7 linked regions of the Homo sapiens genome follow. The protein of the gene in region 5 purifies or fractionates together with the protein of the main gene of each other region. This does not show direct contact. Each region holds a gene or a part of one and is shown on either strand. Other genes may lie near its edges. The genes, in order: XPOT, HID1, GOT1, GAPVD1, TXNL1, URM1 and PARN.

Region 1 (3,897 bases), on a different chromosome or scaffold from region 5:
TAACCGGAACAAAATAAATGTACAAAATTTAGAATAGAATTTTACAGAGTTTATAAGCCACTGAAGCCCATTCATGAAACCCATTCATGAGGCCAAAGGGCAAAACAAACCCTCCCTGAACATCTCAATTGGGCTTTTAGAATTTAAACGTAAATGTCTATACGAATTCTGCTGCTCAGTTTTGTCCCTCCTCTCTTCTTTCCAGTGACACTACTGATAACTATTATTTTTTCCTTTTGCTTTCTCAAGTAGCCATGAATAAAAATGGAGGAAGGCAGGGGTAAGTACTTCTAATAATTAAATGTCAGTTACCATTTACAAACATAATAAACACATAGGTATACTATAGGTATACTGTGTTCTAAATACATCCAATAAAAGAGTTAGAAAATAAATTGGGATTTTAAATTCTTTTTTTTTTTTTTTGAGAGAGAGTCTTACTCTCTTGCCCAGGCTGGCGTGCAGTGGCACAATCTCAGCTCACTGCAACCTCTGCCTTCCGGGTTCAAGCGATTCTCCTGCCTCAGCCTCCTGAGTAGCCGGGATTACGAGCGTGCACCATCACACCTGGCTGTTGTATTTTTAGTAGAGATGGGGTTTCACCATGTTGGCCAGGCTAGTCTCGAACTCCTGACCTCAAGTGATCCACCTGCCTTGGCCTCCCAAAGTTCTGGGATTACAGTCGTGAGCCACCACGCCCGGCCTGGAATTTTAAATTCTATCAACAGATTCACATAGGCTTTTTCCAGTACATTAAAGAAAAAGACTCTCATATAACAGAACTAAGTTGCATGTTACCTTTGAGGAGTGAGGTTAAATGAATTAAAGCATCCACACACTCATATTTGTAAACCTTTAAATGGGAAATTATGGAGAGATTAAGATGAGAAAATAAAACTAAAGTATTTATAATAATTCCAGAAAAGACTTGGAAGATTTCACTACGTAAAGTTTATTTTTATATATATATATAAAAAAAAGTATAACACTGGAGCCTAAAACCATTCTCTTTTGTAGAATACATATTGGCGTTGAAACAGTTTAAAGAAATGAAATGGCTATCTACAAAAAGTTAGTTTTGATTGCTGTCTTCCCCCATACTTTGTGTCTTCACACATAAAGAAAATTTTCAAAGATTTTATATTCAGCAATTTTTTAAAAAGTACACTGTTTTCCACTGCTATGGTCTTTATAAAGGACTTGACTTAAAATTTCAAATAAAAAAGAATTAAGGTTCTAGGATAACTCTTGTGTCTTTTAAGAGCATCTTTATACAGAACAATTTGGACCGGCATGCAGGCAACTTCTTTTGTTGTTACATACCTGTATTAGGAAAATTACACCCATTTTACAGAAAAATCCCAAAACATATACTGCAATAAGCTCAAAACAATGTGAAAAAGACCAGTGTGAATGGCACACAAAAATCGCCTCTTTATAAATTAACTGGAATTCATGATCATGAAGTAGGCACAGGGAAATCCAGTCCTCAGGGCTTTGCTCTCTGGAAGAACACCTGTAAATAAAGTATTAATGCAATCAATACTAATGTCAGAAGATATCACTTTCACCTGAAGAATGGCTCCAAGTATCTGAGTGCTAGCAATGTTCTTCTGTAACATTAGAACATTTCGCATGCCTTATATATCCGTATGTAATCCAAGCTAAGAACTTTCTGTTCTGGAGAGTTTGGTAAGTGTAGATATAACTTATGCTGACATCACCCAACTGGGGAAGTAGTGAAAATATGGTGTTATCTCTATGCTATAGAAATCAAGTGGTCAGAAGAAAACAAGCTCTTGACACCTTTTTACTGATTGGTACTATTTCCAAATTAACACTGGTAAATTAAATATTGAGGACGGGCACGGCGCCTGTAATCCCAGCACTTTGGGAGGCCGAGGCCTGAAGCCAGGAGTTTGAGATCAGCCTGACCAACATGGAGAAACCCAGTCTTTACTCAAAATAGAAAAAATTAGCCGGGTGTGGTGGTGCATGCCTGTAATCCCAGCTATTCGGGAGGCTGAGGCAGGAGAATCACTTGAACCTGGGAGGCAGAGGTTGTGGTGAGCCGAGATCGTGCCACTGCACTCCAGCCTGGGCAACAACAGTGAAACTCCGTCTCAAAAAAAAAAAAATTAAATATTGAGGAGGAAACAAGTCAAAGCTAAACATAGCAGTTCTAACTCTGTAAGGAATTTACTATTTATTTGATGATTCAAAAGTACTTCCAAGTCAAAATTTGAGACTACAAAGGAGTTGGCTAGAGGCTGTGCTAGGCATGGCCTAGTACTACATGCTGCCATCCATGGCAGGTCAGGTGAGCACCAGACATAATTCAGTGTTCTCAGTAAGGACAATGATATGGTTTGACCCTGTGTCCCCACGCAGATCTCATCTTGTAGCTCCCATAATTCCTATGTGTTGTGGGAAGGACCGGGTGGGAGATGATTGAATCATGGGGGCAGGTCTTTCCCATGTTGTTTTCCTGATAGTAAATGGGTCTCACAAGATCTGATGGTTTTAAAAATGGGAGTCTCCCTGCACAAGCTCTCTCTTTGCCTGCTGCCATCCACGTAAGATGTGACCTGCTCCTCCTTGCCTTCCGACATGATTGTGAAGCCTCCCCTGCCATGTGGAACTGTAAATCCAATAAAGCTATTTTGTAAATTGCCCAGTCTCGGGTATGTCTTTATCAGCAGCGTGAAAATGGACTAATACAGACAAGAACAGTATTGATAGTGCCCTAGTACCTAGGAGATTCATTTAATAGATAATCTACTATGTGCAGGGGAAAGAATGATCACTATATAGGCAAAAGAAAACCTTACAAGGAGGCTGTGCTTAAGGCAAACCTAGAGAAATGGGTACAGTTCATACAGAAGTTGGGCTGCTAGTAAGGCAGGATTTTTGAAGAACTACAAGAACAGTAAAGACCATTTCTGCAAGAAAAAACAGAAAGGTAGTCTCAGGGCAGAATATGAAAAAAAAAAAAAATTAAGTGCCAAACTGAGAAACATGAATTTGTTCAGGAAGGTTATGAGGAAGGTGAATAAATATCAAAGGACTGCTTGAAGTTTTCAAACACATCAGCCTGGCTAGAACAAGAGAAGAGAGATCAGAGTAAGATAACATCAGCCTACACCAGAGCAGCAGAGACAGAAGAGAGAGAAGATGAGGAAAGAATCTGCAAGATCTGAGGATCAATCAGATGTGAAGGGAGGAGTGAACACGAATGAAATTCATTTTTTCCAACTAGAATAATAATGCTAACACTGAGAATTATGATCACTAAGATAATGTCATCACTGAAGAGAAGTTGGGCCCAGAAGGAAGACTTTTTATAAATGCTATGCAGATAAATAACCACATCTGGAGAACAAGCCTTCTATAGGGTACCTAGATCTACTGTTACAGACACCTCTAACAGATAGTGAGGACTGAGTCCTTAAATTCAGTTTGACTGATCAGTTATTTAACAGGGGTTACTCCTGTAGGCACTTTGCTTTTTTATGGGAGGATGGCGAAGGGGAGGGTTCCCAATGATAAACAAAAACAAGCCCTCAATATTCTTCCACAAAAACTCTGAGATGTTTAAGCTGACAAACTACAACTAAGAAAAAACTGACAAGGGAAGATGTTAGAACCACAGTCAAAGGATGGCACACTTAAATTATTTACTGCGCAAAGCCCTCTGACTTACAAATTCTACTGAATGTCTTTGCTAAAAGAACCAGGTGATACACTAAGTTACCTGCTACTGAATTTAATACAGTGCTTTGTCTTCAAATTATTTGAGTGAAGATAATAAAAAATAATTCACCTTGTCACACTGTAACTTTATTTCTAGATCATGAGCTCCTTATGGGGAGGGAAAATTACTCATAGTTGTATTTG
Region 2 (4,419 bases), on a different chromosome or scaffold from region 5:
GAGCGAAACTCCATCTCAAAAAATAAAAAATAAAAAAGCATCCAAGATTTCCAGAAGCTTCCAGACATAGCTTGCAAAATGATGTTGTGGAAAAAGCGCAGCCTCATTTGGATGAGCTCCTTACTACCTGTGTGGCTTTGGGCAAGTAATTGCTTTAAGCCTCATTTTCCCCAAGTGTAAAATGGGGATAAAATAATACCTCAGAGGTAGCTATTAGAGATATCGTCATTGTCGTCTTGTTTTGATTCCCCCCCCCCCCCCGAGATGGAGTCTTGCTCTGTCGCCCAGGCTGGAGTGCAGTGGCGTGATCTCGGCTCACTGCAACCTTTGCCTCCCAGGTTTAAGCAATTCTGCTACTTCAGCCTCCAGAGTAGCTGGGATTACAGGCGTGCGCCACTAAGCCCAGCTAATTTTTGTATTTTTAGTAGAGACGGGGTTTCACCATGTTGGCCAGGCTGGTCTCGAACTCCTGACCTCGTGATCCGCCTGCCTCGGCCTCCCAAAGTGTTGGGATTACAGGCGTTAGCCACCGCACCCGGCCTTGTTTTGATGATTAATCTGCCTCTATTACAGGCTTATTTGGCTGTACCCTGGCCGCTTCTTTCCTTATCCCTCTCCCTAGCTGCTCGCCATAAAGAGCAGGCTGTACTACTTATGTCCGCTGTGTCCGTCCATGACACAGAGTTGGCAAATACCAGACCCTCAGCACATTTGTTGAAATGGATGAATCTCAAAGGATTCTCTGGGAATCTGGTGGCTAGAGAGGGGTCGGGACCGCGAGGGACTCTCGCGCTCAGCAAGGCGAGGAGCTGCTTTCCTGGAGTATGGAAACTGAGTCAGCGCCTCCCTCCCTCATAACCAAGGGCCTGCGGGACTGTCTGAACACGTGGGTTTGACAGGTCAGAAAAAGGGAGAACCAAGAGAGTGGATGCTCAGAAAACATGAATGGGAAAGACAGACTGAGAAGGAGGAAAGTGGGATGGAGAGGGCCAGCTGAGACGTGGGCCAGGAGCCGGAGCGGAGATGAAGGGTGAGGACCGGGGCGGGGGACGAGCTGCGAGGAGGGTTTTGGGCCCTGGGGACTGCGTGGTAGCAGCGGAGGCGGGTACAATGCTCCGACGCAGAAGGAAGAGCGTCGAGGCTCCGGGTGGGACCTGAGAAGGCACCCGGCGTGCGGCGGCGCTGGGTTGGAACCGCCGACTCCGCGGGTCTTCGGCGGCGGGCGCTGCAGGTGCAGGAGGCGGAGCCACGCGGGGGCGGGGCCTGTCGGGGCGGGGCCGACGAGGGCCGGGGGCGGGGCGCGCCGCTTGTCTCCTGCGAGAGCCGCGGGGGCCGCGGAGCTGGAGCCGGAGCTGAAGCCGGAGCCGGGTTGGAGTCTGGGCGGGGGCCGGGCCGGAGCGGGCTCCAGAGACATGGGGTCGACCGACTCCAAGCTGAACTTCCGGAAGGCGGTGATCCAGCTCACCACCAAGACGCAGGTGCGCCACGGGGGCCCCGGCGTCCCCATCCACCTGCCGGGCTGGGGGCTGGGCAGGGCCGGGGGTACGCGAACTTGGCTCGTCGGGAGATGGGGGGACGGGCGGGCCCCGAGCGTAACGCCAAGGCCAGCGCCGGAACGGGACCCCGCGGCCTGTACCTGGAAGCTCCATCCCCTGGCCCTAGTCCCCCACCCTCAGCCTCCTCTCCTGGGAACACCCCTCTCCCCGAAGCCGCTGCTGCCACCTTAGGCTGACGTGTGCCTACTCCCCGAGCCGGCGACACAGCTGTCCGCCCCCTGTCCCGCCCCGCGGCGTCCCCAGCTTCGCATCTCCAGCCTCCCGCCGCCCCCACCCACCCATCCACCGTCCGCTCCCCTCCCTGCCCCTCATTGCCCGCGGGTCCCGGACGCACAGTCCCTGTTGACTCAATGCAAACAAAGCCTGGCTGGCGTCCGCCCGGGTCGGAGAAACAGCTGGTGTGCGCGGCAGCGGCCTCGCTGGGCCCTGGTCGATGCCCGTGGGCAGGGAAGGCCCAGGTCTTCCTGGGAACACGCAAAGAGTGGCGGGCAGCGAGGCAGCCTGGTGGGGGGCCCTGTCCCCAGGCCTACTGAGCACAGCCTCCCAGCTGGGGACCTCTCCAGGGGCCTTCCCCGAGGCCCTGCAAGGGAAAGGCTGTTAGCCTGTGTGCTCTGTTCTCTGGCTCAGGGATGGGGACCCGCAGGATGGCCCTCAGTCAGCTGGTGAGGGGCCTAAGGACCCTCCAGCCTAGTCCATGCTCATAACTCTCCTGTGAGTCCACAAGTGGCCCAATAGCCACCTCCTTATACCACCTGGCCCCAGCAAGACTGCTTCTCTGCCCACCCCTTCTCTCCTGGCTTTTTGAATCAGGCCACCGTGGCCACAGAGATGCTCGGCCCTGACTCCCCATGTCCCCCATTTTCAGGGGACACAGGACCTGCTGCCATCTGGGATCTTCCTCTTTCCTGGCCCCCCCACCTCCTGCTCTCCAGGGCTCTCTCTTGCTGCTGGAGGTTAGAGTGGGATGGAGGAAGCCAGCTCCCACAGCCAGCTGGTCACAGCTCCAGGGGCCAGACCTTGCTCCCTCACCCCTTTCCCCACCCTGGAAGGGTCAAATGTGCAGCAAATGCCCAGGGCCTCTGGAGAGTCCAACCCCGGCTGAAAGGCTCTTGATAGAAACCAGACCGCACTTCTCTCCATTCCCTACGGCTCCTGGGTCGTTCTGGAGCTTGGCTTTTTTAGGATGGGGTTTTCGTTCTGTGGGTGGCAGGGAAGGTGGCAAGTGGGCTAGCCCCTCAGTGTAGGGCTGCAGGGAGAGGAGTGGGGAGGCAGGGAGGAAGGGAGGCTCCCATGTTTACCTGCCTGGGGAAGAAACTCCTTGTTGGAGGATTGCACTGTGGGCTCGGCAGCTGGGGTCCTTTGCCAGGCCAGTGGGGCCAGCTCAGCAGAGTACCAAAGGCTCTGGAGTGGCCTAGATTCCTACCTGCTCAGGCCTTTTCCCCAAAATACTGTGTCCCTCTGTCTTTCCCTGGCTACAGCCCTATGATGGGCCACTTGAGATGGTGCTGTTCTGTTTCCCAGCTGAGTAGGCTTGGAATAGAACCTGGATAGGCTGGAGATCAGACCAGCCTTCTGGAGAGCACTGGGTCCTGTAGGCGGACGGGGGCCTGGGCTGCCCGGGGGGAGAGGCCTTCAGAGGCTGAAGCCTTGGACTCTGTGTAAGTGACCTGACTTGGGTAGCTTGGGTGTGAGGATCAGAACCCAGATGATCATCACTGACCTTACCACTTGGAGTCCCCAAGGAGATTCAGGCCAGTTGTCCATAGGATGATATGTGGTTCCAGGCTCTTACAGGGTGTGGCTTGGGCAGTAGACAGGCAGAACTAGCCCCTTTTCCTGTGGCCTGGGCCTGTATCCCTGCTGCTCCACCTTCCTCGCCTTCCTGCCCTGCATCCTGTTTTCTTCCTGCCCCATGGTCCAGTCCTGGGTCAGGCCTGACCCTGGTCCTAAGAGCCAGCCGCTTTGGCTGTGTTTCCTGGTGCTTCCTCATAGTAGGTGGGGCTCTGGAGGGAGACAGTCCCAGACCTGGAACCCTCTCCCAGATCCTGCCTGTTTGGAATTCTCTGCTGCAGGCCAGATGAACCTGGCGGGTGCATATTTACATGTGTATACATGTATGTGCATGGGAATGCATGGTGACACAGTCCTCTAGAGCAGGCTTAGCAGGCTTGAGGACTAGGGGACCTTCCCCCTGCACACCCTGAGAGTCAAAAGATACAACTGCTCCCCCAGGTCTGAGTGGGGGTCTAGTCCGAGCAGGGGCCTGGAAAAGCTGGGTTAAGAATATCTGATTTTGGGCCGGGTGTGGTGGCTCATGCCTGTAATCCCAGCACTTTGGGAGGCTGAGGTGGGAGGATCACCTGAGGTCAGGAGTTCGAGACCAGCCTGAGCGACATGGAGAAACCTCGTCTCTACTAAAAATACAAAAATTAGCCAGGCGTGGTGGAACATGCCTGTATTCCCAGCTACTCGGGAGGCTGAGGCAGTAGAATCGCTTGACCCCAGGATGCAGAGGTTGCGGTGAGCTGAGATCATGCTTCTAGCTTGGGCAACAAGAGCGAAACTCTGCCTCAAAAAAAAAAAAAAAAAAGAAAAAAGAAAAATCTGATTTTGGCCAGGCGTGGTGGCTCATGGCTGTAATCCCAGCACTTTGGGAGGTGGAGGCAGGAGGATCGCTTGAGCCCAGGAGTTTGAGACCAGCCTGGGCAACACAGCAAGACCCTATCTCTAAAAAATAAAAAAAATTAGCTGGGCTGGGTGGGGTGCGCCTGTAGTCCCAGCCACTCAGGAGGCTGAGGCAGGAAGATCACTTGAGCCCAGGAGTTCAAGGTTACGGTGAGCTATGATTGTGCCACTGCACTCC
Region 3 (3,897 bases), on a different chromosome or scaffold from region 5:
ACAATGATACTTCCTGCATCTACATTCTATGCCTCCTCTGGGGAGTTTCAACATAGCCTTGGTAGATACAAGTCTACTAAGAGTCTTGAGAAAGAGTATTCTTAACTTGATTTTGAGCAGCAGGTTTCTCATGCACTGCCATAACCCACTGTTCAAGCCATTCCCAACAGTCAGTTGTTCTAGGGCTGGATTACATTTTCTGTGTAACCAGGGAGAGTCATGAGGATAATTCTCTCTGGTTTCTGTTTTTCCTCTCACTTCAGCTGAAAGACTCACCCCAGGTTGGTGAGGACACATAGACAGGTGTGTTCTTGTTGTTTGTTCCATTGTACCAACGCGCTAAGAAATCAGCTCCAATTCGAAGTGCACCTGTTCCCCCCAAAGATTGCACACCTCCTACCTGAAAGAGAAGAAACAGGGTCACAGGCTGATAATGGTGAGGTCAGATAATATTTACAAAAATAAGGTAATAATGAGCACTTACTCTATGCCTGCTCTGTGCTAAGGCTTTTAATTGTATTATCTCATCAAAACCTTACAACTACTACATGAAAAAGGTACTATGATTTGCCCATGTTTACAACTGAGGAAACTGAGGCTGAGAGAGGTGAAGAACCTTGCTCAAAGTTACCAGCTACTGAGCAGGAGTGCCAGTCTTCAACCCAGGAGGTCTGACACTAGAAGAAGCTTCCCTTCTGAACACAGAGGTAGAGGACACACCGAGGCCACATTAGTGTGTGTGTGTGTGTGTGTGTGCATGCACGCACATGCCTTGGAAGGCAAACCCATCTCTTCAGCACCCATCCTAAGATCAAACTTACCCTCTAGCATAAGCCTCTAAAACAGTGTTCCTAACTTGTCATTGACATCAATCTGTGCTACTCCTCATCTCTAGAATTCAGGCTTATTAATCCTTAGAAGTATGTTCTAACAAAACAGAGGTGATGCATGAGTACTACTTTCTTCTCCTTGGCTTCCTCTCATTTTTTTTTTTTTTCTTTTTGAGACAGTCTCATTCTGTCACCTAGGTTGGAGTGCAGTGGCATGGTCTCAGCTAACTGCAACTTCCGCCTCCCAGGTTCAAGTGATTCTCCTGCCTCAGCCTCCCGAGTAGCTGGGACTACAGGCGCCTGCCACCATGCCCGGCTAATTTTTTGTATATTTAGTAGAGACGGGGTTTCACCATTTTGGCCAGGTTGGTCTCGAACTCCTGACCTTGTGATCTGCCTGCCTTGGCCTCTCAAACTGCTGGGATTACAGGTGTGAGCCACTGCGCCTGGCTGGCTTCCTCTCATCCTAAAGTGACCTAACATAGGCAATAATAAAAGCCATATTTTATTTATTTATTTATTTATTTATTTTACTTTAAGTTCTGGGATATGTGTGCAGAATGTGCAGGTTTGTTACATAGCTATACATGTGCCATGGTGGTTTGTGGCACCCATCAACCCGTCATCTAGGTTTTAAGCCCCGCATGCATTAGGTATTTGTCCTAATGCTCTCCCTCCCCTTGCCTCCCACCCACCGATAGGCCCCCGTGTGTGATGTTCCCCTCCCTGTGTCCACGTGTTCTCATTGTTCAGCTCCCACTTTTAAGTGAGAACATGAGGTGTTTGGTTTTCTATTCCTATATTTTATCATTTACAAAATGCTTTCATGTATACTCAATGCCCACATGCCCTCTAAAGTCAAGTCTATATCCCCTGAAACATGAGGAACTGATTCAGAGACATGTTTTTCCCAAAGGATACACAGTTGTGAGTGGCACAGCTCAGCACAAATCCAGGTTTTCCATTCTAGATGGAGTCACTACATTCTAATGATGTAGTTCTCTGCCTATAGATCTTTGATTTTGCCTCTTCAAAATTCTAATTAGGTTTCAGCATAAGTCTCTCAGCAGAAAAATGTCATAAACCCCATGTTGCCCAATTTGTCTAAAGGATTGAAGAGAAAGGAAGAAAAAGATCACATGAAAAAGTCTATCTAGCCGGGCGCAGTGGCTCACGCCTGTAATCCCAGCACTTTGGGAGGCCAAGGTGGGTGGATCACTTGAGCCCAGGAGTTTGAGACCAGCCTGGCCAACATGGTGAAACCCTGTCTCTCCTAAAAATACAAGAAAATTAGCTGGGCATGGTGGCACACACCTGTAATCTCAGCTACTCGGGAGGCTGAGACGTGAGAATCATTTGAACCTGGGAGGCAGAGGTTGCAGTGAGCCAAGATCGCACCACTGCCCTCCAGCCTGGGCAACACAGTGAGACTCTGTCTCAAATAAATAAATAAGTAAATACAAGGAGGGACACACGCCAATCTTCTAACAGTGGCAACCTCTGGGGAGGGGTCCAAGGATGTAGGAATAGTGGTTGAAAGGGACTTTGGCCTAATCTATAAGTCGTTTTTTTAAAAATAAGATGAATGTATTCATGTATTAGTCATAAAATTTTACAATTTCAAACACCTATTTAGATGTCTGGGATTTACTATTAAATAATAATCCAGCTTTCGTGGAGGGCAGGGAGGCAGGGAGGCAGGGAGTGGGTAGATGGAAATACACAGGATTGACCCTATACAGATAATTGTTGAAGCTAGGTGATGGATACACAGGGATTCATTCTTTATACTGTTTTCTCTACTTTCATATAGATTTGAAATGTTCCATAATAAAAAGGTTTTTTTTGTGTTTTTTTTTTGTTTGTTTTTTGAGACAGAGTCTCGCTCTGTTGCCCAGGCTGGAGTGCAGTGGCACGATCTTGGCTTACTGCAACCTCCGCCTCCTGGGTTCAAGTGATTCTCCTGCCTCAGACTCCTGAGGAGCTGGGACTACAGGCACGTACCACCACACCCAGCTAATTTTTGTGTTTTTAGTACAGATGGGGTTTCACCATGTTGGTCAGGCTGCTCTCCAACTCCTGACCTCGTGATCCGCCTGCCTCGGCTTCCCAAAGTACTGGGATTACAGGCATGAGCCACCACGCCTGGCCAATAAAAAAGTTTTAAAACTCTTCTTAGAGAAGAAAAGCTTCCTAAATCTTTTCAAGAACCTAACATAACATTGCTGCTAAAAGACAACAAAAGGGAAAAAAGTAGAATGAGAGACCTAGATCGTACCTTGATACTAACTTCCCAAGTAAACATTAATGAACAATATTAATCCAGCAGTACATTAAAATTACCCCCTTGATTGAGAGTCATCCCATGAATGGATTATAAGAGATATAAAACCAATCATGCTGCTAGATAGAGAAAACCCAAATGATCATCACAACAGGTAAGAAAAGCTTGGCTATTCCTGAGATAAATGCTTAGTAAAACAGGAAACAGTGGATACTTCCTGAAAATGACTGAAAAAAATTCATTTAACCCATAAGTCAGCTTAAAAACAGTGAATCGTTTAGTAGAAATCCCATTTAAGCCAACAACAAGGTAATGTTACCAATTATCGGCACTATTATGCACCAATGTTCTGTTTGTATTTATAGGTGTGAGCATCTGTGAAAGAATACTATCTGAAATGTGAAACATAAGCAAAGTTGACATTCAAGGGGATGCAGAACTAAACATAGCTGTACATTACAGAGAGGGGCAAAGGCAGTGCACTGGGGTGAAAATGCTCAGTGTGTGTCAGATTTGGTGTGCTAACTACTCTGTTATTTACAGTGATCCTTACTGAGCACTCATCCCTTGCTATTACTTTAAAAGTTTTGCCCCCACATTGTGGTTTACCTGAATTCTTTATGCAAATTGCTACCAAGATGATATAACACAAATGTGCATTTATTTTTTATGGATTTGTCATCCAGCTAAGTTGAATGTCAGTTTCATACATGACTTCACATTGCAGATACCTAAGCCACTCTAGAGTGCTAATACTTCCTAAGCAAATGAGCAAGACCTCCC
Region 4 (3,897 bases), on a different chromosome or scaffold from region 5:
CATGGGCCAGGCCCAGGGTCCCCATGCTGTGTGCAGCCTAGGGACTTGGTGCCCTGCCCTCCGGCCGCTCTAGCCATGGCTGAAAGGGGCCAACACAGAGCTCAGGCTGTGGCTTCAGAGAGTGCAAGCCCCAAGCCTCGGCAGATTCCATGAGGTGTTGAGCCTGTGGGTGCACAGAAGTCAAGAATGGGGTTTGGGAACCTCCACCTAGATTTCAAAAGATGTATAGAAACGCCTGGATGCCCAGGCAGAAGTTTGCCGCAGGGGCAGGGTCCTCATGGGGAACCTCTGCAAGGGCAGTGCGGAAAGGAAATGTGGGATCGGAGCCCCCACAAAGAGTCCCTACTGGGGCACTGCCTAGTAGAGCTGTGAGAAGAGAGCCACTGTCTTCCAGAATTCAGAATGGCAGATCCACTGACAGTTTGCACCGTGCACCTAGAAAAGCCAGCAACTCCACACCAGCCCATGAAAGCAGCCAGAAAAGTGGCTATACCCTGCAAAGCCACAGGAGCGGAGCTGCCTAAGACCATGGGAACCCTGGCTGGGTGTGGTGGCTGACACCTGTAATCCCAGCACTTTGGGAGGCTGAGTTAGGTGGATCACTTGAGGTCAGGAGTTCAAGACCAGCCTGGCTAATATGGTGACATCCCATCTCTACTAAAAAATACAAAATTAGCCAGGCGTGGTGGCGCATGCCTGTAATCCCAGCTACTTGGGAGGCTGAGGCAGGGGAACTGCTTGAACCCAGGAGGCAGAGGTTGCAGTGAGCCAAGATCGCACCATTGCACTCCAGCCTGGGCAACAAGAGCGAAATTCCATCTCGGGGGAAAAAAAAAAAAGAAAGACCATGGGAACCCACCTCTTGCATCAGCGTGACCTGGATGTGAGCCACGGAGTCAAAGGAGTTCATTTTGAAGCTTTAAGATTTGACTGCCCTGCTGGATTTCAGACTTGGATGGGGCCTGTAGCCCCTTTGTTTCTGCCAATTTTTCTCATTTGGAATGGCTGTATTTACCCAATGCCTGCACCTCCATTGTATCTAGGAAGTAACTAACTTGATTTTGATTTTACAGGTTCATAGGCAGAAAGGACTTGCCTTGTCTCAGATGAAATTTTTGACTGTGGACTTTTGAGTTAATGCTAAAATGAGTTAAGACTTTGGGCAACTGTTGGGAAGGCATGATTGGTTTTGAAATGTGAGAACATGAGTTGGGAGAAGCAAGGGGCAGAAAGATATGGTTTGGCTGTGTCCCCACCCGAATCTCATCTTGAATTCCCATGTGTTGTGGGAGGGACCCAGTGGGAGGTAATTGAATCAATGGGGACAGGTCTTTCCTGTGCTGTTCTCGTGATAGTGAATAAGTCTCACAAGATCTGATGGTTTTGAAAAAGGGGGGTTTCCCTGAACAAGTTCTCTTCTCTTGTCTGCTGCCATGTGAGATGTGCCTTTCACCTTCCGCCATGATTGTGAGGCCTCCCAGCCACATGGAACTGTAAGTCCAATAAACCTCTTCTTTGGTAAATTGGCTAGTCTCGGGTATATCTTTATCAGCAGCGTGAGAACAGACTAACACAGAAATCTACATCCAGGAAAATACAGCCAAGCACTTTGTAGGAAGCCTAGATTCATTTCTGAAATAAGGATAAAAAAGAAAACACTTGCAGCTAACAACTAGGTTTAAAAGCTGAACAGGTGGGGTATATTACCTGTAGTCCTCAGCAATCGAAGCCAGCAGTTTCCTACAAGTCCTATTATCAAAACGGCACACACAGCGCATTGTTTCTTGAAGTTGAGCCATTAGATTCTTATCTTGTAAATTAATTGCTTCAGCTATTTGAACTTTTAAGAAGCATACAATTTCATTGTCTAAATAAAAGATACAAGAATTCTGTTATTCTTGAGAATTTCCATGTGCTTAAATAAGCTAATTCAGCATTTGGGACGTCAATTCTGCTTTGTCACGTATCATTAGAACTAAGCTGTATTGCCACTCCCAATTAGAAAATACTTTAATAAATCATCAGTAATCAAAGTGCCCTTAAGTGATACTAATGTAAACATATTAAGTTGAACCATATGGAATTGCTGTACAGCTTCAACAGCTGAATACTGGCAATTTCATATGGTGCAACCCATAAACATAGGAAAAATTAAACGATCCTGCAGCAATTTACCTTCTGGGTCTGTGTGGTCTGGTAAACCATTCCTTGTTGAATGGGTCAGCACTGGGAAGGCAACAGAGTCCGCAGAGCAAAGAGCAAGCCTCAGTTTCTTTTTTGCATCTCTGAAAAATGAGTAGAAAATACATTAATTTCTTTATCCAGATATGGTCACATTTTACAAATATTTACTATATAAATTAATGTTACCTTAGGACTCAAATGTTTCAAACATTTTAAAGAAGATGATTCTTAACTGACACTCCACTTAAAAGAACAGGCTTTCTAATTACCCAAGGAGCCAGGTGTGCTCGGGGCAAGGACCATTCTTTAAAGCACCAGAATCAAACAACAAATCCTTTCTGACCTTTTTTCATACACTGAGTTCCATGACGGGTGCTATAAGAATCGGAAAAGCATATTATGGCAGAGTGGGAGGGACCACGGAAGTCAGAAGCTCCCAACACCCAGATTTGGAATGCCTTCTGGCACATCTCTTTAGAAACGCTGATGACGCCACAAAATAAGCTCACTACCTGACAAGAAACCCTTTCTTCTTTTTTTTTTTTTCCTTTTTCTTTTTTATAGAGATGGGATTTTGCTATGTTGCCCAAGCTGGTCTCCAACTCCTGGGCTCCAGCGATCCACCTGTCTTGGCCTCCTAAAGTGCTGGGATTACAGGCGTGAGCCACCACGCCCAGCGAGTTTTTTAAATCCTTGAATTAACACCTTTGATACATAACATCTACAACTGAAACAAAGTCTTCTTAGTAAACAGCATTTCATTTTTCTCTCCCTGCTTTATACATTTATTGACTCAAAACATCACTTGACTTGACGTGACTGCAATGGTGCTGAAAAGTCCAAACCCTAAAGTCCCAAATCCTATAAAAGAAATACCTGTAAGAGAAAGCTGAATCCTGCGGGTGGGCTGCTTGGCTTGCAGAGTCTGGGAGATCATCAGCCGAGATGTTCTGCAGTGCTTCGTCACGGGGAGAATCATGTGCACTTTCACCATCACCCATAACCTCTAAACAAAACCCACCCCCAAGAAACGGATACCCAGGTTCATTTGGAATATTATGGCACTAGTAGGTATTCAGAGCAACTCAAGAATAAATTACCATTGACTAATAATAAGAGTTCTCTGGAAAAAAAAGAAAGAAAAAACAAACTTCAAATACTTAACTGAATTATCAATAGCAACAATTATGTATCAAGAGACTAGTTGCTGAGAAGAGAGTGGTTTTACTTCTTATCCCAATACTAATGCAAAACAATGAACTAATGCAAAATAATGAAAGTTCACATTAACTTAATAAAGTTAACATCTTAGAATCACTGAACCAGAGAACTAAAAGAGGCTTCAAAAATCATTTTATACCCTCATTTTATAGACATGGACTCCTGCCCAGTCAGAAAATGGCTTGCTCTAAATTTCTTGGTTGGCCAATGGCCAAGGTTGACTATGGGTTAAGGTCTCCTGATTCTCTCTACTGGAGGTCTTCCTGCTACACCCAAGAGTGAGTCAAGGGACCAAATCACACATGCAACAAAGTCAGATCTGTGGTTTCCAAAGTTGGTTTTATGTCTTAATCAAGAATACACGGCTGGGTGCGGTGCCTCACACCTGTAATCCCAGCACTTTGGGAGGCTTTGGTGGGTGGATCACATGAGGTCAGGAGTTCAAGACCAGCCTGAAAAACATGGTGAAACCCTGTCTCTATGAAAAATACA
Region 5 (4,372 bases):
TTACCAAGGAGGTAGATGGGGAGGGGCAAATTACTGCTTAATGGGTACAGTTTTGTCCCTTTGGAGAAGTAAGGATGGGGAGTTATCCTTTAATGGATATAGAATTTCTGTCTAAAGTTATAGGAAACAGTGGTGATGGTGGCACAACATTGTGACTGTATAGTCATGTCTGGGTATCTGGGGGATTAGTTTCAGGACCTCCAGCAAGACACTAAATCACAGATGCTCAAGGGCCTAATAGAAAATGACATGGTATCTGCACATAACCTACGACCATTCTCCCATATACTTTAAATCATCTCTAGATTACTTATAATGCCTAAGGTAAATGCTATGTAAATAGTTGTTATACTGTATTGTTTAGAAAATAATGACAAGAAAAAAGTGTGTACATGATCAGCACAAATGCAATTTTTTTTCTCCAAATATTTTCTATCCACATTTGGTTCAATCCATGGATACAGAGGGCTGACTGTCCTTAATGCCAATGAATTATACTCTTACAAATGGCTAAATGGTCAATTTTATGTTATATATATTTTATCATAAGCCACTAAAGATTCTTACACAGGAGAACAATCTATGTATCATTTTAGTAAAATTTAGACTGAGAGTGCATAAAGCATAGAGGTTAAAAAAAAAGAAAAAAGGTTTAAAATAGGGTTGGAAAGGAAATGAAATAGGTGCTGGAGAAACTATGCCCTCAGTCTAAACTGGGACAGCATTAACTTTGATCTAAGAGGATTCTTACAAGATTTTACTGAATACAGTTGTTTCTGAGTCTAATACTGACCCGTCATATACATAATTCTGGGGTTCTATTGACAATGAGTTTAGACAGGATGTATTAATGGCCAATAAGTTCGAGGAATATTAAAGGTAAATACAATAATCTTACCAGATTTGTAAACGTAATATAAATATGCTTTTGAACTTACTCTAAATCCAAACATTAATTTTCCCTCGGTTTTTACAAAGAAAAAAAATTTTAATTCCACTAAAATACCTTTTTAAATGTAACAGTTCCTTACCAATCAATGTCTGCAGTTATGCTTATGCTTAAGTGACACCACACTGATAGAAAAAACCTTCCTTCGCAGCAATGTTTCCCCAGTTTTCTCACTTCAATCAATATTTATTTATTATTTTATTATCTCTCCCACTGCTATGGTAAGGGAGAAAAACAATATATCATTGAGGGACAAAAATATAAAAGCTTCGACGGGCCAGAATTAGAATAAGTGAACTAAAAGTGAGGTGAGGTTCCTTATTGAAATCCTATCTTCCCTTTTCTACTGTGGCCTAGATACTTAATGTACTACAGGTATTCCCCTATTATTAAGAATACAGACATCACAAAATTGCTAAAAATGAGAAGACACATTTATAGAATTCTAACATTCCTTTTAGGTGTTTTATATATATGACATCACTTATCCTTTTAAATTTAGTAAATGCAAAATTCCGTATATCATATGGGTACTCTAGCCCACCATATGAAATGCAAGGTACTATCCTTTTTCAATTCAGTGTAAGAGAGACTGGTCCAAAAATAAGTCTTAACTTGTTTTCATATCTATCTGCATCCATTCCCTAAAACGATATAATCCTAATGCCACCATTTATATACTCAACATTTAGTGAACCATCTAGTAGAAACTTTGTTTTTTGCTCTGAAATTCAAAATGGAATTTTGTGTTTATACAGTTATTTGGACAAGAAAGTGTGTTACATAAACAGTGATACCAGCAGTAGACTGCTCCAAGTTAGATGTATAAATAACGCCAAGGGGTCAAGGAAAATAAAGCGGAAACCTCTCATACTTCTAACTAAATACTATCGACATACACAAGGAGAGATCTGTGAAACACACACACACGCTGAAATCTTGGTTCTCAACGCCGAGTTCCAACATGTCATTCTTACAAAGGAACTTTACTACACATCCACTATAAAAGGTCCACCTTTTCTACGACCTATAATTTTGTTGATATTTACCAAAGACAGTTAACATTTTTCAAGATCCCTGTCCTCTTAAGTGAAAAAACAGAGCCGGGTCAAACTAAGACATCCGGCCAACTGTCCACCTGAAATATATTATATATGTACTGTCGTGTGTGACCAGTTGCAATCGCATACATAGGGGAGCCTAAGCTACAAGTTAGTGGCCGAACGAGGAAGAAAAAAGTTCAAATAATTTAAAAAGCACCCTAACCCAACGTTAACTTAGTTCGAAATGCATTAGCAGAAATTCAGGACTCAGAGCTACGCATATTAGTTAGATCGCCCCATCTGAATCTTCAAAGGCTTTAGAGAGATGTAGGTGGTGAAGAGAAACAAAGTGTTCGGTAAATTAAGCTTTTGGAGCTCTGGAGATGCAAATGACAGCTGGCTCTGCAGAAAGAAGGGGTCAGGCTCAGGCAAGGGTGGCTGCGGAGACTCCCACAGGCTGGAAGGAATAGGGGCGGGCCACCCCCAAAACCAGTTTGTCAAAGAATTGAAAAGGAGCAGGTGAGAAATCTCCTGAGCTGGAGAAGCCGGCCAGCCAGGCCCCCGAGCCCGTCTAGGAACCCCTGTGCATAAATGGGGGTTCACACCCGAGAAACGAGGCCTAATTCCGGCAGCTCCTGGGGCTGCGGCGACTGCCGGACACTCCGGGGCAGCAGACGGCTAGGAAACCAGGGCCAACAAAGAGTGAAAGGAAAGCAAGGAAGGACAGACGGGGACCCACAGAGCTCGAGCCTGGCCTCACCCTCTCATGGTGAACTTGACCACGGCGAGTCTGGAGCCCGCGCCGCTCAGCTCTGGCTGGAAATCCGGGTCGCTCCCGACGGGCTTCACCCCCACCATCCTCACAGAGAGCCCGGCAGGGTGGCCGCGACGCCACTGGCTTTGAAACTGAAGGAGAAGACGATCTGGGAGAGGAAGGAGAGATGCTCAGGAAGGCCGAGGCCTGGACAGAAGAGGTGGCGACCGCCGAGTCTTCTCCCGGGACTCTCAGTGCCGAGTCACGCCAGGGAGCGGAGCGGCCGAGGGGGCGGGGAGGGATGGGGGAGGGGAGAGGAGGAGGATGGGAAGGCGTGCGGCACCCAGCAGCCACCGCGCGGCAGGGCCCCCGGCGTGACGTCATTTCCGCGTCGTCCGGTTTGGCCTTCAGCGCCCAATCCCAAAACGCGAAGCGTAGTCCCACCCTCGACTGAGTAGCCTCGCGCTAACTTGAGCGGCGCAGGCGCAGAGGAGACGTGTAGAGGTCACGTGCGCAGGCGCAGACTGAGACTCAAAAGTTGGCATATGCATCCGCGTTTCCCAGATCTGAGGCTTTTACGGAGGAGGTTTCTGATTTGTAACAGTAGAGAGGAAACTCGTTTTACCCCGGGGTTCTTAGCTGCTGTCCAGGGCACCCACTGGAAGTACTTTGAAGATGCTCCTGTACTGTATTCGGGGCAGGTCTACATACAAGACAAAATAACGTTTAGGAATATTTATTAACAGACTTAATTACATATGGGGCGCTTTCTGTGCAGTCATTCAGAAAGTATCGTGCACCTGTCTTTAGGTTTTGACCAAAAAGATGAAGACACTATCCCTCCTTTAGGAAGTTCACGGTCTAGTGACCGACGCAAACAATAATTTGAATAGGAAGCGGTGGAGACTAACGAGATGGAAGGGTGGGGCAGGGTAAACTTGCTAGGAATCTGACTCCTGGATTGAATCTTTAAAGAGAAGCAGGGGTTAGATGGATGGTGAGAGGTAATATTCCAGGCAAGGGGACCACCAGGTGCAAATGCATGAGTTGAGAGGGTGGATAAGAAGAATAGCTAATATTTACCACATGATGTACCAGGCAAGACATAAGTTCTTTATATGTGTACTAGTTCATTTAATCCCTGTGAAGTAGGTTCTGTGATTTCAAGTCAAGGCAGGCTAACGCCAGTGTACTCTTTTAAATATTAGGCTAGGTGGCAAATTATCTGTCTTTGGATTTAGCTGGGGAGATGAAATTGGAGGGAAGGCCAAGGTCAGATAATGACTAGCTAAGGAATTTGGATTTTGTCGGGAAGAGAATGGAAAAATCATTTCAGGGCAATTTTGCAATTACAAGTGTGGTGAAACTCCCGTCTCTACCAAAAATACAAAAAAGTAGCCGGGCGTCATGGCGCGCACATGTGGTCCCAGCTACTCGGGAGGCCGAGGTGGGAGGATTCCTTGAGCTGGGGAGGTCAAGGCTGCAGGGAGCCATGATTGCGCCACTGCACTCCAGCCTGGGCAACAGAGCCAGACCCTGTCTCAAAAAAAAAAAAAAAAGGAAAAAGAAAAAGTGTCTTCAGAAAAGCCCTCAGGTAGCATCAAGGAGGATGGAAGGCAGTGAGAT
Region 6 (4,540 bases), on a different chromosome or scaffold from region 5:
GGCCTTCTCTGAATCCGGTTCTCCCCTTCCTCCTCCCTAACTCTTCCAGCTCTGAGATCTGTTTTCAGTTTTCTTGTTACTAAACCGAACTCTTGAGGATTTTTTAAATCCCAGATGAAAGGAGCCTGGTGAATTTCTCAGAAAACTTGGATTCTGCCCTCTGGTTGCCACAGACTTGCTGTGGGACCTTAGGCGACTTACTTCGCTTCTCTGGGCCTCAGTTACTCTCTACACAGAAAGTGCTGAGGAAAAAACGTAGCTAGTACAACTGAAGAGCTAAATATTCTGTTTTATTTCATTGTAATTTAAATAGCCACATGCAGCTAGTAGATTACCATACAGTGCAGCACGGGTCTAGAATTCCAAGGAGTCATTGACTCTGTGCGTGCACACACCCATGCACATGCACACACACTCACTGGGGACACCCCATAGAAGCCCAGTGCAGTCTCCTTGGAAAGGACCAGGTTCCAGTTGCCACGAAGTTACTTCTAAAACAAGGCCAGTCCCCCACGTGAAAGGTGGCCGGTGCAGTTGTGAGGCTCGCTTATTTGCCTCGAAGCATAGGTCACTGTCAGGTCCTAAGGGATCAGGCCTAGGGGATCAGCCCTCCTTCAGGTCATGGTCCAGTGGTCCTGGAGGCCACCTCTAAGGCCAGCAGTGCTCCTTGGGCCATTACCAGTGGGAGCCAGGCTAAGCTGCCTGACCAAATGTTGACCTACCCTGCCTTATGCCAGGCAGGACTGCACGTGAGCATTGCCATGTGGCATGGCAACTGATTCGGAAGAGGCAAAACAGCCTTCTCTCCAGGATGGGCATGCAGAGGCCTAAAAAAAAGCCGAAGTTCTTTTCCAGGGCTAACGAGAATAAGATTAGACCCCTGGAAAAGTCCTACTAATGGTTACCATGACAGTGTGGCAAGCACTCCACACATATCAGCTCATTTCGTTTTCGTATAGGCCTTGTGGGTTAGACAGTATCACTTATCCCATTTTCAGATGAGGAACCTGATACTCAGAAACAAAATGACCTGCCCATGGTCTGGGTGGTGGTGCTGGCTGGCATTTGCACCCATTTTCCATCTGGCTACAAAGACCATGCATGACTGACCTGGTTTCCTTCACACTCAGACCAGCCTCCCCTTCCTGGGATATCTTTAGCCAGACCCCAGGAGGAAGGCTCCTCAGCACACTCTCCTGCAGCCCAAAGCTCTCAGCCTCTCTTCCTCTGTGCTACTGCCTCCTGCCTCTCACTCCTTGCTACTCACCACCATCTTTCCCACAGGCGGCCAGGAATTCTGGTGCTGATTAACGATGCCGACTGGGAGCTACTGGTCAGTACCTTGGGGGACATCCCTCCCCCAGCCCCTGCCCTTGCTGCTTCAGTGGGAAAGCGTTGGGCCTCTCCTCAGGCACATATAGAGTGGCTGGGTAATCCTCCGCCCCACTCCAGCCCCACACTGAGGCTGCTGGAGTCTCCCACTCCAGGTGAGGAAGGGATGGGTAGCTGGGGACATGGGAGTACTCCTCCATCCTGAAGATTTGCAGGTTGAGGTATAGGATACCCATTTTTCTGGTAGAGTCTGTCTCTTCCAGAGCAGCCAGTCCTCAGCCCCTGTTCTCCCAACTCCTGGGGTGGACCTGGGAAGGTGGCCCTGAGGGTCTCCCGCTCCCCTCTCTCCCGCACCAGGGTGAGCTGGACTACCAGCTTCAGGACCAGGACAGCGTCCTCTTCATCTCCACTCTGCACGGCGGCTGAGGGCCCTTCTCTGGGCCTGGGCACCCTTAGAGGGGAGAACGAAGCAATCAGACATCCCCTTGGGCCCTGCTTCCAGGTCTCCCTGTCCCCCTTGCCTGCCTTCTTCCCTGCTCTGTCCCCTAAGCTCCCTCCAGGCAGGGAAAAGAGGCCAGGTGCTAAAAATGAGCCTTTCTCAAGCACGTGAGCAGCGGAAGGCAGACAGGCGCCAGAGCCCAGCACTCCCTTTTCCAGCAGCTGTGGTGGGGGAGGGTTCCCCTCCAGTTTGTCAAGAGTTGAAGGAGGCTCTGTGGCCAGGTGACCTGGCTGCCTTCCACTCCTTGTACCTCAGTCTAAACATGGAGTGGCCGCTGACAAGGCGCTCCAGCCCCAGAGCCAGCGTCTTCATGGGGAAGATGAATGGACCTGAGTAGCTGAAGGAAGGCCCCTCCCTACCCAAAGACTGGAGGCTTCTCAGCCTCAATTTCCCTGTCTGTACAGCTGAGGGCTCTGCCTGTCCCCCACTGCTATCAGTATGGAACCCCAGCTGGGGTCCCCTATTGAGTGCCGACTCCCCCCACCGCCAGCAGCTGCTCCTCCAGCCACACCCCTCCTGCTCCCCCCACCCCTAGCCCTTGACCCTGGCTGGCCTGCCCCGCTCCACAGGCCACCAGATGGGCTCCTGAGACCCTCCCCAGGCTGCTTACAGCTCATTCTGCTGGGGGTAGAGATGAGGGGAGGGAGTAAGTTAAACCTTGGACTAGCAAGTAGAAGCCTGGGGGGATGCGTGTGCCTCAGTTTCCTCCTCCACAACTGAATATAGTGGCTGAAAACTGGGGAGATACTTGATGGCGCGAATGTCCGTTTTCTCTCCCTTCCCACCTCCTGCAGGAAGCAGGACGGGGCAGGCAGCACCTGGTAGGCACAGTGCTTTGCCCCTCCTCCCCTTCCCTTCTGGAAGTCTTGGGGCCTCAGTGCTTGCAACAGCCGGCCTTGGGCAAATAAAAGACTAGGTTGTTTACTAGCCTTGCTTGGAGCTTCATCCTTGGAAACGGGTGGCACCTCATATCCCCCCAGCCGTGGTCTGTGATACAACCTCTCCATCCTCAGCCTAGGGCCTCAGAGCTACCCTTCACCCAAAAGAGGGGTGGGGGTGAACACTCAGACAATCTGAGAGGGGGTAGTCTAATAGAGCCATCTGGAGAAGGGAGTGGCAGAGCCAGTCTGTGCTGACCAGTCTGTGTCCCGGGACGCATCCCCACCCGTCTGTCCAAGGCTTTGTCCCACCAGCTGCAGCCAGCAGCCTCAGAACCCAAAATGAGGGTAGCATAGATAAGACTGCTGAGCCCCCTTTCTGTGGTCTTTCCTTTCCATGACCTAGAGAAAAGAGCTTTGCTGGAGGGAGACCCCCAAAAAGAATTAGGGTGCTAACATCCCACCAAAAGCATCATCCCACCCAAAATGTTGCTTTTCATTCTATGTCAATAATTTAAGGTGGAATTTCTCTCACCCTGTGGAGATGAAAGTGGCAAAAGGTTGTCCCAGCAGTGTTGGGGGATGGGGTGTGCACATCATTCTTTTGGGGGTAGATGACCTGCTGGCTGGTGGGCTTTTCTCCAGGACTACTGCAGGTAGAGACCCTCTGGGCTTGTGTGGAGTGGGAGCAGCCGTGTTGGGACTATGGGGAGGAGCTGGTCTGGGTGCAAATTAAGGCCAGTGTTGGGGTCTGAGTGCTGTCCAGAAAGGCTGTGTGACCAACCCTCACTAGTTCCTGAGGTCAGGGTCTCCATGTTAGGGAACAGAGCAAGAGACTTGGAACAGCTCCCTACAGCTGCACTTCTAGAAGGTCAGCCTGTCCGATTCTTGTAACCTGGAGGTCCCTCCCCATCTGCAGCCCCCTGAGCTGCAGGAGCGGCCCCATCAGTGCACCTGATTGGAACACACTAGATTTCAGGTCCTGGAAACTGGGCGCTAGGATCCGTTTCCCTGGCTGCAGAGAGTGGGAGGTGTGATGTGGAATATCCCTTCTCCCAGCACACCCCAATTAATACTGAAGAGTAGGGCAGGAGGAGGTGCTGGGAAAACCGGGTTTCTTGGCACATGGGGGTGCAAGCACTGTGGTTGAAATTGGCCATGTCCAAGGCACACCAGACGATTTCAGGTCATTTTTAGCCCTAGACTGGAAAGGGGTCAGGGGACAGGTGACCTGGGCTCAGCCCCCAGCAGCTCCCAACTGCCCCTCTCCCAAGCAACTCCTGATCCCTGCTTTTGAGGAAATAAACAAATAAAACCCCGCTATCTCCGAAGATTTTTCTTTAATGAAAAGGATTCGTTTTTCCAAATTCTATTTCCAAAGCCGAGGAGATTGCCGGGCTGGAGCGCATCGTTGGTGACGCTTGCCCGTCGGACCCTGGCAGCGGCTGGAGGAGGCTCAGCCCATCGGTCCGTCCGGAGGGGCTTGCGGGAGGGGTTGGTTTGTTTGGGATTTAGGGGTTGGTTGAGGATTTGTTTTGTTTAGGTAGGGAGTATTGGGGTGATAAGTTAGAACAACTGCGAAACGAGTTAGCGGGCGCATTCGGCCGGCCTCTTCTTTCACCCCCGACTTCATGCGGCTTGGGCTGAGGGCGGACCACATTCGGCCCCGCCGCTGCGTGCCGGCTTCGTTCCGGCCGAAATTTGAAAGGAGGAAAAACGACGCGATCGACTGAAGGACCCTGCCGGCCGGGACTGGTCACCCGCAGAGAAGGAAGAAGGACGAGGATGCGGATGGCGGCGCTGGTGGCAGGGACCGGCGTCTCTGTGCGCG
Region 7 (3,897 bases), on a different chromosome or scaffold from region 5:
ATTAGCTGGGCGTGTTAGCACATGTTTGTAGTCCCAGCCACTCCAGAGGCTCAGGCAGGAGGATCGCTTGAACCCAGGAGGTGGAGGTCGTGGTGAGCCAAGATCGCACCACTGCACTCCAGCCTGGAAACAGAGCAAAACCCCATCTCAAAAACAAAAAAAAAGAAAAGAAAAAAAAAAGAAACACATCTGGCCAGGCGCGATGGCTCACGTCTATAATCCCAGCACACTGGAAGGCCAAGGCGGGTGGATCACCTGAGGTCAGGAGTTTGAGACCAGCCTGACCAATATGGTGAAACGCTGTCCCCATTAAAAATACAAAAATTAGCAGGGCGTGGTGGCAGGTGCCTGTAGTCCCAGATACTCAGGAGGCTGAGACAAGAGAATTGCTTGAACCCAGGAGGCAGAGGTTGCAGTGAGCCGAAATCACACCACTGCACTCCAGCCTGGGCGACAGTGTAAGGCTCCATCTCAAAAAAAAAAAAAAGAAAAGAAACACATCTGTTACTCTACATACAGCAGTTATGCTTCAATTTTTCACAACCATATATATAAAATACCTTCTATGAATTCAACTACAGATCTTCAGCCTGAAAAAGGAAGAGGAAGAAAAGAAAAAGGAGAAGACAAAAATGATGTAAATGTCATGCTATGCTGACTGCCCTACTATTCTACAAACACACTCTTCTGGGTGTGAGTGTGGTTCTGTCAGCCCATTCCTCCACATCTTGACAAGCATATGGGAGCATCTCACTGCGCACACAGGGTCTTATTTTTTAAAGAACATATTAAATTGTTGTATCCTCAAATCCTATATGCTTTAAGGGTGATAAGAGCTTTCTGAGAGAGATTTTGACCCAATTTTCACCCTACTTAATAACTCCAGAAACTAATGCCCTTGTATGCAACTCTGCTACAACTATAGAATTTTAAATAAAACAAAAACCTTAAATGAGAGACCAAAGAAAATCCAAAAATACATTAACCTTTTCATACAATTCCCAAATTTAGAGTCTAAACCTTTTCTCTGCCTTTGCTTTTCCACACTAGAGAATCCCGGCATTTTTATTCATCTGTTTTAGACATTACTCTCTGGGCTATCTTCAAGTCTATGATAGCTTTTTTTAAAGGAGTGGCTGGCAACTACAACTGTATTAAGTATTCCAGGTGTACAATCATGGTTTGTACAATGGGTGAAGTTCCTCTGATCTGTTTCCAATACATTTCTCAAAATAACCAGTTTTGTCTTGGTTGTTTAGAACAGAGTGCCATCGGCCAGATGTGGTGGCTTACGCCTGTAACCCTAGCACTTTGGGAGGCCAAAGTGGGAGGATCACCTGAGGTCAGGAGTTTGAGACCAGCCCGACCGACATGGAGAAACCCCATCTCTACTAAAAATATAAAATTAGCCGGTGTGGTGGTGCATGCCTGTAATCCCAGCACTTTGGGAGGCCAAGATGGGAGGATCACCTGAGGTCGGGATTTCAAGACCAGCCTGACCAACATGGAAAAACCCTATCTCTACTAAAAATATAAAATAAGCCGGCGTGATGGTGCATGCCTGTAATAACAGCTACTCAGGAGGCTGACGCAGGAGAATCACTTAAACCCGGGGCTTTAGCCTGGGCAACAAGAGCGAAACTCCATCTCAAAAAAAAAAGAACAAAGTGCCATCCCCAAGGTGTCTCATTGCCACCCTCTGCTTTTGTTTGATTAACCCCTGGCCAAAGCCATGGAACCCACTTTAAATAATTCTGTGTTGCTGGTACTGCTAGAAAACTATATCCACACAAATTTCCCAACTGAGCCTACTTTTCCCTCAATGAAAATTTACCAAAAAAAAAACAAAACAAAACAAAACTGTAAGGCCGGGTGCGGTGGCTCAGCACTTTGGGAGGCCAAGCCGGGCAGATCACCTGGGGTCGAGAGTTCGAGACCAGCCTGATCAACATGGAGAAGCCTCACCTCTACCAAAAATACAAAATTAGCTGAGCATCTTGGTGCATGCCTGTAATCCCAGCTACTCGGGAGGCTGAGGCAGGAGAATCGCTTCCACCCAGGAGGCAGAGGTTACAGTGAGCCTAGATCATGCCATCACACTCTAGCCTGGACAAGAAGAGCGAAACTTCATCTCAAGAAAAAAAAGAAAAGAAAATTTATAAATACTCTTTAAGTATCCCATACCACGGTGATTGACAAATAGCTATTAACTGATTGCAGGGTAAAGGTAAAATGTCAACTGGTTTACTTGCTAATTTAGGAAACTGTCTATAAGACCAGAATTTAACCTTCACCTTTTCTCTTTTGCCCATAAGCATATGATTAACTCTCGATTTCATTTGTTTATATACTGCCAGTTTTGAGAAAGAATTTGACATAACTCAATCACTTGAAGCCTACCCTCGAGGCTTTCATAACTGCATTACCATTAATCTGCAAGAGAAGGGAAAGATGGCAAGACTCAAATGAATTCATGTTTTTAGTGGGAGAGAAGATAGGATGCAAGATTTTAAGGGAGAAAAGATTAAGACTTATCTTTAATCACATAGCCACACAACCATACCCCTTACTCACATTCTCCTTATCCATTACAACAGATAATCAAAAGAGCAGAAAGGAAACAGTGATATTTACTGAGTGTCTACCAGGTCAGCTACAACACCTCTAGAGGGAATATCCTGAAGGAGAACCTCCCTAATATTGACCCATCAATTAAGCTCTCTTCTCCTCAAGAGAAACAGTAGTTTTTTTTTCTACCCCCCTTTCCTAATTAGTGAGCTTGAGAAAAGGAAGTCAGCATAAATACTTGAACCCCTTCTGCGCTTTCTCTTTTTGCATAGGATACACACATACTCTGCTTTTCCAGAAAATAAAGGTCTACACCCTCAGAGTGGATGCGAGGAGAATGAGTGAGGATAGGGAGAAGCCTCCAAGTCTTTTGTTTATTTTAATTTTTATTTTAAAATAGAGATGAGGTTTCACTATTTTATGCCCAGGCTGGTCTCAGACTCCTGAGCTCAAGTGATTCTCCCGTCTTGGCCTCCAAAACTGCTAGGATTACAGGTGTAAACCACCACATCCAGCCAAGAAGCCTGCAAGTCTTGATGTGTAGGTGGTTCAACTTGGGGGTAAAATAATAAAAATCCCAAATGGAGTTACGAAACTATGTTCTCAAATTCAGCTTTAGAATTACTAAACCTCATGTTCTCATATCTGTCTGTCTGTCTCTGCATCTTATTCCTTAATTCATTCTTTTTTTTTTTTTTGAGCCAGAGTCTCGCTCTGTTGCCCAAGCTGGAGTGCAGGGGCGTGATCTCGGCTCACTGCAACCTCCACCTCCCAGGTTCACGCCATTCTCCTGCCTCAGCCTCCCTAAGTAGCTGGGATTACAGGCACCCATGACCACACTCGGCAAATTTTTTTTTTTGTATTTTTAGTAGAGACAGGGTTTCACCATGTTAGCCAGGATGGTCTCGATCTCCTGACCTCATGATCCGCCCTCCCCGGCCTCCCAAAGTGCTGGGATTATAGGCATGAGCCGCCGTACCTGGCCCTCCTTAATTCATTCTACAGCAAAGGAGGAGATAACAGGGTCATGAATTTATTACCCTAAAACTGAAGGTCAAAGGTGAAATGATTTGCCCCAAAGCCCAAAGTTAATAGAGAACCAAATTCTGATTTCACATTTCCATGCTGCCTCATCAGCAATTCAGAAAAGAAAAATCTCAATTATGCTACTTACCTGACAAACAAATTTGACATCTGGTGAGGATCTATTGAAGGGTTTCGGGAAAACATAGAAGTTAAATGACTTCGTTATATACCTGGGATAAGATAAAAGGAGACTTAGGAGGTGACATTGTGCCACAAAAACGGAATTCCCAACGTTTGTTAACA

The links.
Region 1: the proteins of TXNL1 (region 5) and XPOT fractionate together in Homo sapiens (co-fractionation; one large-scale study listed by BioGRID). This does not show direct contact.
Region 2: the proteins of TXNL1 (region 5) and HID1 fractionate together in Homo sapiens (co-fractionation; one large-scale study listed by BioGRID). This does not show direct contact.
Region 3: the proteins of TXNL1 (region 5) and GOT1 purify together in Homo sapiens (affinity purification with mass spectrometry; one large-scale study listed by BioGRID and IntAct). This does not show direct contact.
Region 4: the proteins of TXNL1 (region 5) and GAPVD1 fractionate together in Homo sapiens (co-fractionation; one large-scale study listed by BioGRID). This does not show direct contact.
Region 6: the proteins of TXNL1 (region 5) and URM1 fractionate together in Homo sapiens (co-fractionation; one large-scale study listed by BioGRID). This does not show direct contact.
Region 7: the proteins of TXNL1 (region 5) and PARN fractionate together in Homo sapiens (co-fractionation; one large-scale study listed by BioGRID). This does not show direct contact.

What each region holds. Positions count from the first base shown.
Region 1 is NC_000012.12:64,445,724-64,449,620, reverse strand, and holds part of XPOT (exportin-T), read right to left. Parts: intron 1,517-3,897; coding exon 1,490-1,516; 3' UTR 1-1,489. UniProt on the Homo sapiens protein: Mediates the nuclear export of aminoacylated tRNAs. In the nucleus binds to tRNA and to the GTPase Ran in its active GTP-bound form. Docking of this trimeric complex to the nuclear pore complex (NPC) is mediated through binding to nucleoporins.
Region 2 is NC_000017.11:74,969,650-74,974,068, reverse strand, and holds the start of HID1 (protein HID1), read left to right. Parts: upstream 1-1,309; 5' UTR 1,310-1,412; coding exon 1,413-1,478; intron 1,479-3,276; exon of another isoform or gene 3,277-3,380; intron 3,381-4,419. UniProt on the Homo sapiens protein: May play an important role in the development of cancers in a broad range of tissues.
Region 3 is NC_000010.11:99,406,450-99,410,346, forward strand, and holds part of GOT1 (aspartate aminotransferase, cytoplasmic), read right to left. Parts: intron 401-3,897; coding exon 277-400; intron 1-276. UniProt on the Homo sapiens protein: Biosynthesis of L-glutamate from L-aspartate or L-cysteine. Important regulator of levels of glutamate, the major excitatory neurotransmitter of the vertebrate central nervous system. Acts as a scavenger of glutamate in brain neuroprotection.
Region 4 is NC_000009.12:125,348,683-125,352,579, reverse strand, and holds part of GAPVD1 (GTPase-activating protein and VPS9 domain-containing protein 1), read right to left. Parts: intron 3,191-3,897; coding exon 3,061-3,190; intron 2,286-3,060; coding exon 2,176-2,285; intron 1,868-2,175; coding exon 1,708-1,867; intron 1-1,707. UniProt on the Homo sapiens protein: Acts both as a GTPase-activating protein (GAP) and a guanine nucleotide exchange factor (GEF), and participates in various processes such as endocytosis, insulin receptor internalization or LC2A4/GLUT4 trafficking.
Region 5 is NC_000018.10:56,635,591-56,639,962, forward strand, and holds the start of TXNL1 (thioredoxin-like protein 1), read right to left. Parts: upstream 3,003-4,372; 5' UTR 2,851-3,002; coding exon 2,753-2,850; intron 1-2,752. UniProt on the Homo sapiens protein: Active thioredoxin with a redox potential of about -250 mV.
Region 6 is NC_000009.12:128,387,977-128,392,516, forward strand, and holds the end of URM1 (ubiquitin-related modifier 1), read left to right. Parts: exon of another isoform or gene 1-1,284; coding exon 1,285-1,333; coding exon of another isoform or gene 1,334-1,537; exon of another isoform or gene 1,538-1,689; coding exon 1,690-1,758; 3' UTR 1,759-4,040; downstream 4,041-4,540. UniProt on the Homo sapiens protein: Acts as a sulfur carrier required for 2-thiolation of mcm(5)S(2)U at tRNA wobble positions of cytosolic tRNA(Lys), tRNA(Glu) and tRNA(Gln). Serves as sulfur donor in tRNA 2-thiolation reaction by being thiocarboxylated (-COSH) at its C-terminus by MOCS3.
Region 7 is NC_000016.10:14,623,364-14,627,260, forward strand, and holds part of PARN (poly(A)-specific ribonuclease PARN), read right to left. Parts: intron 3,825-3,897; coding exon 3,743-3,824; intron 1-3,742. UniProt on the Homo sapiens protein: 3'-exoribonuclease that has a preference for poly(A) tails of mRNAs, thereby efficiently degrading poly(A) tails.